Homo sapiens: one gene and its partners. The protein of the gene in region 3 interacts with the protein of the main gene of each other region in a pairwise test. Each region holds a gene or a part of one and is shown on either strand. Other genes may lie near its edges.

Region 1 (3,600 bases), on a different chromosome or scaffold from region 3:
CAGTGCAGGGCATTGGAGGCTGACTCCACAGTGGACAGAGAAGACTTTCAGGGAGATCAGCTCAGCTCAGTCTGAGGGGCAGGGACAGGAGGAGATAGCGTTTCTGCGGTTATCAGGAAGGGAAGTGGAGGAGGCAGCCAGGAAGATATCGGGAAGAAAGAGGAAGGGCGTGTGCTAGATCCCGAAGAGGAAAAAGCAGCTGAATTTAGCAGCCTCAGGGGTGTGAAGGTCAAAAGTATCAAGGAATCTTAAGCCCAGGGTTCTGGGCCAAGAAAGCAGGACTCTCTCTCATTTACATGGGCATCTGAGATGAAACCTGGTGTCCGGGGACTTCTACCAACCTAGGATTCGTGGGGGAGGGCAGTGGGACTGGTTCAGAACCTGGCTCCCCTGTTTACTAGATGTCTGACCTTGGGAGAATTACTTTGCCTCTCCGTACTTCATTATCTCCATCTATAAAATGGGGAGAACACCACCTTATAGGGTTGCTCTAAAGATTAGACAAGGCCAAGTGTTCAGAACAATACTGGCATATACAAAGAGCTCCAAAATTTTATTTTTCAGTTACTTTGCTCCAGTGGTGGGTGAATGCAGAGGGCCTGGCTGGGGAAGAGGGTCTCTGCCTCTCTGGGTTTAGACCAGGACAGCAGAGCTGCAATACTCCCCCTGCCCTAGATCAGGGACATTGCAAAGACTGGGGGGACAGGCTGGACAGCTGCTCAGAGACTGCAGCAAGCAGGGCTTGGTCGCCCTGGGAGAGCAGGCAGAAGGTCAAGGAAGTTGTACAGGGAATGCCACCTCCCTGCACACCATCATCTATCCTGGGCTTTCCAGGGCAACCTAGATTTCAAACCCTCTGCTCCCTGGTGCCCCTGTGAACAGCAGAACTCACCACCCTGTGCCCCTAAAGTCCACTCACTGCAAATGCAGGGCCCCATTCTGAGACTGCATTCCTAGCAAATGACTCTCCCTGGTCAAGGAGACGGCTACTCTAACAAGGGCATGGGGAATACACGTCTGGGAAAGAATGGGTGCTCACCCTGTTCAGGCAGAGGAAAAGCCGGGGAAGGTGAAAGACCAGGGGTGGCCACAACCCGCAATCTTGAGACAGTGTTGGGGTATGGAGGTGGGGGCTGGGTGGCAGTAAATGGTACTCCAGAATTTAATTAAACACAGCTTCCTCTTTAATATCTCCCAGGACCAGGCCCTTCACTGCACCAGCCAGAGTTCTGCTCTAACTAGCAATGCTGGGCTTAAAGGGGTGGTCCTGGGATCGCCCTCCCTGCTGAGACCCTCACAACTGCTGCGGCTGTCAATGGCCCGATTCCTCACTGCCCGGAGGGCACCGGCCAAGGCCCTTCTTCCTAACCTCTGGGCGGGCGCACCCCGCCCCAGGCCCTGCCAGGGAAAAAGCGAACTCCCCAAGGGACGTGGTGGGAGGGACCCAAAGGCAGCCTTCCAGGGAGCCCTGGGGGTGGGGAAGACGCCAGGAAGGGGAGAGGGCGGCGCCGATTGACAAGCCCATCCCGGGTAGGGTCTGCGCTCTTCTCGTTCAATAAAATCCAAACGGGGTCCCGAGGCTGCTCGGATCCCGTGGGACACGCCGCCCCTGTGCCCAGCTCCCAGCAAGGTCCTCGACTCGGGCTGAACGGCGCTGGAGGGGACCTCGCAGGGCTGGGTCTCCCGGGCCTTTCCCTCCCCGCGCCCATAGCGGGTCCGGGCAGAGGGGTCCCGAGGGCAGGGCCGGCCCGGACGCGGCGCCCCAAACGGCGGGCCGGGCAGAGCCCAGCGCCCCGCTCGCACCCAGCCCGCCCGGGCCCCCCACTCACCGGCCTGGCGGAGGCAGGATCCAGGCGTCGCCGCAGCGCCCGGGGCTCGGCCCGGCCCGGCCCGCCGGCAGGAGGCAGCTCCACGCCGCCGCCTCCTCCTCGGCCAGCCCGCTCGCGCCCCTCCCGCACACTTTCCACAGGAAATGATTAACTCGGGCCGCGGCGCGTTCCCATGGCAACCGGCTCCGACCCCGGCGGGGGGCGGCGGCGCGCGCCCGCACTCACGCGCACTGGCGCGCACGCGTCAGCCCGGGCGCGCCCCCGCAGGTCTCCCGCCGGCACTCCCACTCCCACTCCCACTCCTTCGCGGGGCCTCCCACTCGGTCTCTCCCGCCTCCCCGCGTCCCGCACTCGCACTGGCACACGTGCTCATGCGTTCCCTGAAGGCTCTCACAAAACAGGCCTGCACACGGGCTGGCACACACGAGGCAGCCCACACAGCCCCACACCTGGTGAGCCATGCGTACTTTTGCACAGCCTCAAACCCGAGTGCAAAACTTCCACGCGAGTACTCACACATACACTTCTCACGCGGGCTCTCATACCAGTACGTGTCTTCCCATCCCAACACACACACAAGCTCTTACTCACGAGACAATACATGTACATCCCTTACCGTGTCCTTGCACGCGCTGGCGCACATGCACTCACACTGTTTACAGCGCACACGCTCTCACTCGCTCCACCACCTACTCGCTGGCCAGGCCGCCTTCTAGCCACAGCACTTCCTACCTCTGCACCCCCAGCCCCACCCCAGCAAATGAATATCTTCCCAGCAAGGAAGCTGCCTGGAGTCCCTTAAGGTAAAACACACCAATGGTGCAGCAGTTCCCGGCCTTGCTGCAGAAGGCCCTGCTACTGGGGCACCTAGAGCCTCAGAAGAGGCCTGGGGGAGGCCAGGGGCCTGCCAGCCGGGAGAGACAGCTGACCTGGAGGAGCCACTCTGTTCTTTGTCTCCCAAACAGAGGCAGCATTTTATTCCAGAGCCAGCAGCAATATTCTCCCTCACTCTCCACACCCCCGGGTGCGGAAGAGGAGAAAGCAAGTCACTCTGAAGCCAGCCCATGCAGGCTGACGGTTCTGCAGATAATCCCAGGAGGGCGGGTACTCTGTCCCTTCCTGCTTGTCAGGGGATGGCCCAAGAAGATCAAGGAGAGGACTGGAGGGGGTCGGGCAACTCCAGGTGGGTTCTATCTCCTGCTGCCGCCCAGGCGCTGGGCTGCCAGTCAAGAATCTCGACCAGCGACGGAGCCAAGGGCCTGGGCCTCAGATTGTTCTGGACGCCAGAGCAGGACAGTCACAGTCCCCCAGCTGGAAGCAGCCTAGTGCATGCTTTATTTGACAACTGAGATTCCTCAGTGAAGGCCTGATAGAGGGTGAATGTAACGCTCCTGGAATCATTCCCTAGAGAGTTAGATTTCCAGCTGAACACCACACTGGAGAACCCTTCCAATGGGAGAGAAAGCCTTATTTGGGGAGTTATGATCTCTGAATTCCTCTGCCTGCCCTCCAAACAGCAGTGATCCAGGGGACCGCAAGGGTGGATGAAGGCAAAATGTCTCTAGAATTCTGATTTAGTATCTATCTCCCTTGATTATAGTCCCTATGAGTTGATGGGGCGGGGGATGGGGAGGACAGAATGTCTTTAAAGTCCTGGTTCAAAACTGGAGACTTTTTCTTACTCAGGGATTGAGTACATTGACATTAACTGTAGGTCCTTCCCACCAAAGCCAAAGCCAGATTTTTAAATTAATAATAACATTTATTGTTC
Region 2 (3,818 bases), on a different chromosome or scaffold from region 3:
CTCAATAAATCCTCATTGAATAAACGAGTTTGGGTTTCTCCTGCAACACTGAATCATGTAATCATGGGGAAAGAGGAGGTGGAGATCCTCATCCTTCCCATGGTCCAGGCTAGCTCCATAGCCTGGGGCCAATCAGTGAGTATCAACTGTGCCTCAGTTTCCTACATCCATACATTGGAAGAACCATCTTTTCCCTGTCGCTTTTCTGCCACGGGCCAAGAGTAAAAGAGGCACGAATGTACAAGCTGAACTTGCAGCAGTTAATGTGATGGCTCTGTGATTCTGAAGGGCACCATGAGGCGTGGTGTTCTGTTAAAGAAAACGCCAGCAAATTAGAGACATCCCCATAGAAGCCAGAAGATGTGGTTAATGTTTGCAACATGAAATGTCTAGGTGTTCTGAGGTGGGCTAAAGGACAGTTGCTTTTCTTCCCTATTAAATAGGTGGTTAGACTCAGACACAAGGGAACAGGAAGCAGAATGGCATCAGAGACAAAGATGACTGCATGGAGTTTGGTGAGAAACCATCCTCAAAGCAGCAATTTTTTGGATGAGTCTCAGCCTTTCTGAGCCTCTGTTATTCCAACTGTGAAGTGATACAATTAACAATAACAAAAATTTGATAAGAGCAAATACATTTGGCATTTTTAATGAACCTACTACTATTCTAAGCCCTTTAAAGATACACATTTATTTCGATTCATAGAACACCCCATGATGCAGGAGCTGTTACTATCCACATTGTACTGATGGAGAAAGTTCCAGTAACTTGCCAAGGACGTAGCTGGCAAGTTGGAGCACTGAGATTCAAACCCAGGGCTTTGGCCTCCAGAGTCTGTGCACTAACCACTGTAATACCTCTGAGACTGTAAGGGGCAAATGAATGACAACGCATTGATTTAGAAGTGAAAGGCGATCTAAACGTGCAAGTATTAACACTATTAAAAACAACAATAACAATGGTAGGTACCTCCGATGCCTCTGACCTTATCTCTCTGGTCACAGTTTTCTGCTCTGTAAAATGGGTGGGCAGGCTTTACACTGGATAATCTCTGAGGCCCCTTCCACTTCTCAGATTCTGATAATGAAATGTCCTTCTTTCCTCACATAAGGCTGAGAGAAGGTCAAGCCACCAGCTTGCAGACCTTGGGAGTTGACACAGGGAAGCATACCCAGGACAGAGCCAGAAAAGCCAAGGCACGCAGTAGGGACACACCAGAGGGCAGGCCTCAGAGCCCCTGACAGCCTTCTGAAACTCTGGCAGGGTGGAGGGAGGTTGTGGGCTAGTGGCTGGCTGGGCTGCAAGGAGAAGAAAGGACTCCACAGAGTAATTTATAACAGCTGCTCAGTAAGTGCTAATTTGTTTCTCTCCACCTTGGAATAGGACTTAGCGCGTGTGAGAGGGGGATGCTACTACATAAACCAGTACCAGAAAGATGGGCTTGCCAGGAAAGAACTGGGGCACTCTGCAGGGGCAGTGTCTGGGGAAGGGTTCTCCAAAAAGGTGACATTTCAGAGGGGCCTGGATGGATGAGTAGGATTTCAACAGGCAGAGATGAAAGGGGAGGGTGTTCCAGGCAAAAAGAAGAACTCCCAGCAGCCATGAAGAACAGCTGGTGTTTGGCAACAGCTAGTGTGTCCAGAGCGAAAGTGTTGTGTGTGTGTGAGGGAGAGAGGGTGAGGCTGGAAAATTAGGTTGTGGCCGGAGAGGGCAGGGTGGGCCTTGCCTTGTGCGCTAAGCTGAGGGGTTATCCTGCAGCCGGAGCACCTCGGGAGGCCTTTGAAGATTTACTCAGTGCTTTATTAACAAATACGTATTGGGTTTTTGGTGTTTTGTTTTGTTTTTAACGATTCATGCCCACAGTAGAATATATAGAAGAGTCAGAAAAGTATAAAGAATAAGGATCCCCTTTAGTTTCTGCTCCCAGAGGTAACAGCCGGAGTGACGCCGGGCTGCTGCCGGGTTTTCGGGGGTGCACTCCCAGACACCACCTCTCCAGTGAGCCAGCGAGGGCCGGACTGATGCCCCACCTTGGGAGCCTGAATCGGGGCAAGGGGCCTAGGGAGCAGCGGGACCCCGGAAGCCCGACCAGTCAGGCCGGCTAAGTCGGCAGCCGCCCCGCCCTCGCCACCCAGCCTCCCTGGCGGCCTCAGGTCGCGCCTGCAGGCCCGGACCCCACCGCTTGGCGCGCGCACGTCCCGGAGGGCGTCCAGGGGGCGCCGCTTCCCGTTCAGCTCCGCTGAGGGGCTGGTCCAGCCCGCGCGGCTCGGAGCGGAAAGAGTCGGGCGGAGCAGGCGGCTGCTTGACAGCTGAGAGCCGAGCGGGCGGCGCGGGCAGGTCCACGGGAAGCCTACACGCCCAAGGTAACGTGGAGGAAGGTTGAGGGTGGGCGGCCGGGGCGGCCGGGGGGCGGCGCTTCCTGCCTGCTCCTCCGGCTGCGAAGTGTGAGCGCGTGTCTGCCGCACATGGAACTCGCAGAGGGCCTGGATGGAGGCTGTGTGCCCTTGGGGGGGAACAGCTGGCTCCCCTGCCACCCCCAGGCCTGGCCTGGCCCTTGCTCCCCTCCCTGTCACTCGGTAACGGGACTGGAGGAGAGCCGAGAAGCACTAGGGTTTTGGTCAGGAAAGGACCTTAGGAACCCTCCAGCCTCATCCAGCCTCTTCATTTCACAGATGAGGAAACTGAGGCTCAGAATGGTAAAGTGACTTGCCCAAGGTCTCAAGTCTAAGAACCAAAACTCCTACCTTGCAGGTCAGTGCTACTAGGAGCCCTGGCCACGCAGGCAGCATCCACAACTGTTGCCATGCCGAGAAACAAAGAACCGAGACAGACAGTCAGAAAGACACAGAGAGAGAACCTCCCAGAGCAAAGGAAGGAGGTCAGGAAGTGGGCGGCTGCTGGGGCTTGGCTTCCGCCCTGGCCCCCGCGTGTGCTGGCCTGGCTGTGTGGCTCAGAGGCGTTGTGCTGACTCTGTCCGTGTGTGTGTGTGTCCGTGTGTGTGTGTGTCTGTGTGTGTGTGTCCGTGTGTGTGTGTGTGTGTCCGTGTGTGTGCGAGTGTGTGTCTGTGCACCCATGCATGCACGGGATGCAGCGAATGTACCCTGCCACGTGGGAAAGCCCTCTGAGTTCATTTATCTGTTTACACAGTGTGCTTAGGAACCTGCCCTGTTTGGCTCTGTGGAGGACACCAGGAGTCTCAAAGGAATTCGTTCTGTGTGACTCAAGAGGACAGAAAGAGCCAATCCGTGGGAGTCCCCAGGGTGGTCAGAGGGTCAGGAGGAAGAACCTAACTCATGAGGTGATGGGTTCCTTGTCTCTGGAAGAAAGCAGCATGTACCGAAGAGTCTTTTTATCAAGGATGTGGGCATAGGGATATGAAATCAGAGCAGTTTGCTCCACGTGGAATCAGCATTTTTGTTGAAGGGTCCAGAGTTCATGCCCCTTTTCAGGTGAAATGAATATGTACAACCTCATGGTTTAGTATTTGCCCATAAGAGCTACTTCATGCGCAGTTTTTAAGTGATAAGTGAGAGGCTTCAGGTATGGCTTCCGAGGTCCTGTCACCTCTCGGTTCTATAAGTGAGAGGCTTCAGGTACGGCTTCCGAGGTCCTGTCACCTCTCGGTTCTATACTATAAAGTGTGTAGAGGGAGTTTGGAGGAGGGAGGTTACTTCTGGAAGGAGTGACTCGCAGAGGGCGTCCTGGATGTGGCACTGAGGCCGGGCCTTGAATAGGAGGCTGGGTCTGGGCATCTTGGGGAAGGACGGCTGAGCAAAGCCGTGAAGGTGGGTTGTACCTGAGGAGCAAGGAGTAATGTA
Region 3 (3,818 bases):
CCCAGATAAGGTCCCCACTGCCAGACTGCAGGAAACCAACAACTCTTGCCCTAGAGATGGCCCTACCCTGCAGAGTCTGTGAACCCTGGCAGGCAGTCCCCTCTCCCCACTCTTTGCCAGGGTTCCAGAGCCCCTCCCAACAGGGCCCAACTCACAGCTGCTCACCTTGCTGGGTTGGCCCTGCTGGCAGCGCGGATGCTGCAATAACACAGCCACTTCAGACTCGCTCTGCTTTTCAACTCTATCCAGTTAGGCAGTTCCTGACTCAGGCGTGATGGGTCCTGCTTCACTGGATCTGTCCAAGGCAAAGCAGAGGTATTTTGCTGTGATTCTGTCCCACACACATGTCCCTGCCCAGGCCATGCCAATTCAGACTCTGCATAGGTGTTCACTAGGACCCTGGTGCAGGGATAGAAGAAACTGCTCAACTGACAGAGGGAGCGGAGCGGGGGGAGGAGTCGGGGGACGAATGGTGAGAGGGGTGGGAGGTGAGGAGGGAGGTAGGGGGTGGGGGCAGGGGGGCTGCTGGTAGGGCAGAAGGGATCCTAAGGTAAGGTTGCTGCCCTACCCCCACTGCAAACTCCATTCCCTCCCAAGCTCCGCCCCTACAGCCATGTTGCAACCCTTCCTAAGCCCCACCTCAAAACCTGCACCCCTGCTGCCAAACTCTGCCTATAACTAAGTTGCACCTCTACCCCAAGCTTAGCCCCCCACCAAGTCTAACCCCTTCCACCACCCAAGTCTAACTCGTGCCTCAAGCCCTGCCCCCACCCACAGTCCAACTCCTACCCCAAGCCCTGCCCCCTCACCAAGTCCAACTCCTACCCCGAGGCAAGTCTAACTGATATCCCCAAATCCCCTACCTCCATTCCCCTGCTCCCCCCAATCCCCACCCGGTTATCTACATACACCCACACCACCGACATCAGTGGAAGCAGGCAGAATCTAGGAGGGGAAGGTTCGAAGCCACTTTCCCTCAAGGGCAAGGGCCAAGAGCTACTATCCTGACTGCAGTGTCTCCGGGCAGGTCAAGGGTGGAATAGGTCTCCCTGAAGTTTGTTTGTTTTTCTCTGAAACGGAGTCTGGCTTTGTCACCCAGGCTGGAGTGCAGTAGCGTATCTCGGCTCACTGCAACCTCCGCCCCCTGGGTTCAAGTGATTCTCCGGCCTCAGCCTCCTGAGTAGCTGGGATTACAGGCGTACACCACCACGCCCGGCTACTTTTTGTATTTTTAGTAGAAACGGGGTTTCCCCATGTTGGCCAGGCTGGTCTCCAACTCCTGACCTCAGGTGATCCACCCGCCTCGGCCTCCCAAAGTGCTGGGATTACAGGTGTGAGCCACCGCGCCCGGCCAGGTCTCCCTGAAGTTCTGCCTGGAAATGGCAGGGATTCCTTGGCGTGCTGGGTGTGATCTAGTGGGATCCCGCCTCCAGGGAAACCTATGGCCACCAGCCCCTAGACCCCGTGGAAAATAGCAAGAGTTACTGGGGGGTTCCCCCGTAATCTGGGTTGCTGTCCGAGCCCGGGGTCCAGCTCCGTACCTGCCGGAGGTGCCTCCAAGCCGGAGTTCCCGCGCAGCGCGACCACCACACGTCTATGGCGGCTGCCGCCTCCGTGCTGACTGCGCCACGAGGCTGTGGCGGGAAGAGGTTGTCTGGTGACGACCGCCCCCCTACCCCATGAGCGGAACTGCACACGGCCCGCTCACGGTTGCGCACTGGTGACATAAACCCTCCTACTTCCTGCAAGGTGGTTCCTCACCCCACCCACCCCCGTGCCGACGACGGTGGCAGCCAGGCTCGCCACGTGCCATTTGGCCCAGCAGCCACTGTGGCTCTTCCTCATTGGAGGGGAGCTGTGGCGTCCCAAGCCCATGGGTGAAGGGCCGGGTGCAAATCACCCAGTGCAACGTATAGGCCACGTGAGCGCCCTTATAAACGAGTCATAGCCCTCGTTTATTTTTTATTGGACTGTTCTAGGGGAGGAGGGCAAAAAATACAGCTACTGCCTGCATTTCACAAGGGCATTAGTTTTTTTTCGCTGCTCACTGAGAGCCAGATGACTGAAAATATTCCATTCTCCCATTATTCTCCTGATTTCACGACCAAACATTACGCACCTAGTACCCAAACTGCTTCCTGTCGTTTCCCAAAGCAGGTTTCTTCCACAGAGGGAAGGTCCTGCGGCTTGCAGCGGCCCGAAAGTACTGTTCCAGAAAAGGGTGTGGGTGCGGCACAGGTAGCACACTTCAAGGTGCACACAAATCCCCTGGTAATCTTAAAAAAATGCGTGAAGAGATCTGAGGCAGGGATGGTTCCACTGAAAGCTAGGTTACTTGCTGCATATCCCTGCCCAGGCTGTGTGGAGCAAGGGTCTGAAGCCTATGATTACATTTCAGGGCCAGAAGTTGTGGACCTTTAGTGACAGAATATATTTGTTTTTCTTTCTCTGTGATTAAAAAAGAAAAGGCTTTTTCTGGTACTGTTTTAATAAATATGTTAAAAGCGGACAACATTTTAAATTTATGGTCACTGAGAAAGATATTTGCAGATATCACCTTCTTCAGCCAGGTGTGGTGGCTCACACCTGTAATCCCAGCACTTTGGGAGGCCAAGGTGGGCAGATCACTTGAGATCAGCCTGGCCAACATGGCGAAACCCCGTCTCTACTAAAAATCCCAAAATCAGCTGGGTGTGTAATCTGAGTAGCTGAGTAGCTGTAATCCCAGCTACTCAGGAGGCTGAGGCACGAGAATCGCTTGTACCTGGGAAGCAGAGGTGGCAGTGAACCCAGATCACACCACTGCACTCCAGCTTGGGCAACAAAGTGAGAGCCTGTCTTTTTTTTTTTTTTTTTTTGAGAAGGAGTCTCACTCTGTCACCCAGGCTGGAGTGCAGTGGCGCGATCTCGGCTCACTGCAAGCTCCACCTCCTGGGTTCACACCATTCTCCTGCCTCAGCCTCCCGAGTAGCTGGGACTACAGGCGCCCGCCACCACGCCCGGCTAATTTTTTGTATTTTTTAGTAGAGACAGGGTTTCACTGTGTTAGCCAGGATGGTCTCGATCTCCTGACCTCGTGATCCACCCACCTCGACCTCCCAAAGTGCTGGGATTAGAGGTGTGAGCCACCGTGCCTGGCCGAGATCCTGTCTGGAAAAAAAAAAAGACAATTCAGAGCCCATTAAATCAATCTCCTTCATGTGACAAGGAGAAAATAGTGCTGAAAGCCATTGCTTAGCTGCCTGGTATCACAACATCACAGAAGGTGATGTTTTGGAAAGAGGTTCTGCCTCAGTCACCTCTGGGCTACTGGGTGCTCCCCTGGCCAGACGTATACTTCAATTCATTCTATTTCTCACTAGAAGACTAGCTTCCTCTCTCTCTCTCTTTTTTCTGTCTCAGTCTGTTTTGTGCTTCTATAATCAAATACCTGAGACTGGGTAACATATAATGAACAGGAATTTATTTAGCTCATGTTTCTGAAGGCTGAGAACTCTAAGATCAAGGGGCTGCACCTGCTGAGGGCCTGGCATGCAGGCATCAAGACGTGAAAGCATGTGTAAGAGTGAGCAAAAGAAAGAGAAGAAAGGGGCCTAAACTCATTTTTTAAAAAAAAAATCAGGAACTCACTCCCACAATAACAAATCCACTCCCGAGATAACAGCATTTGTCCATTCACACTGGCAGAGTCCTCCTCACCTAATCACCTCTTAAAGGTCCCACTTCTCAACAGTTGTATTGGGGATTAAGTTTCCAACACATGAACTCTGGGGGACACATTCAAACCATAGCACTTTTCTTTAAAAAAAGTTATTGGG

The links.
Region 1: the proteins of PNMA5 (region 3) and KIFC3 interact in binary tests that used the Homo sapiens proteins (3 or more experiments, as listed by UniProt).
Region 2: the proteins of PNMA5 (region 3) and CRACR2A interact in binary tests that used the Homo sapiens proteins (3 or more experiments, as listed by UniProt).

What each region holds. Positions count from the first base shown.
Region 1 is NC_000016.10:57,800,541-57,804,140, forward strand, and holds the start of KIFC3 (kinesin-like protein KIFC3), read right to left. Parts: upstream 1,952-3,600; 5' UTR 1,830-1,951; intron 1-1,829. UniProt on the Homo sapiens protein: Minus-end microtubule-dependent motor protein. Involved in apically targeted transport. Required for zonula adherens maintenance.
Region 2 is NC_000012.12:3,751,560-3,755,377, reverse strand, and holds the start of CRACR2A (EF-hand calcium-binding domain-containing protein 4B), read left to right. Parts: upstream 1-2,268; 5' UTR 2,269-2,363; intron 2,364-3,818.
Region 3 is NC_000023.11:152,992,492-152,996,309, forward strand, and holds the start of PNMA5 (paraneoplastic antigen-like protein 5), read right to left. Parts: upstream 1,626-3,818; 5' UTR 1,542-1,625; intron 296-1,541; 5' UTR 166-295; intron 1-165.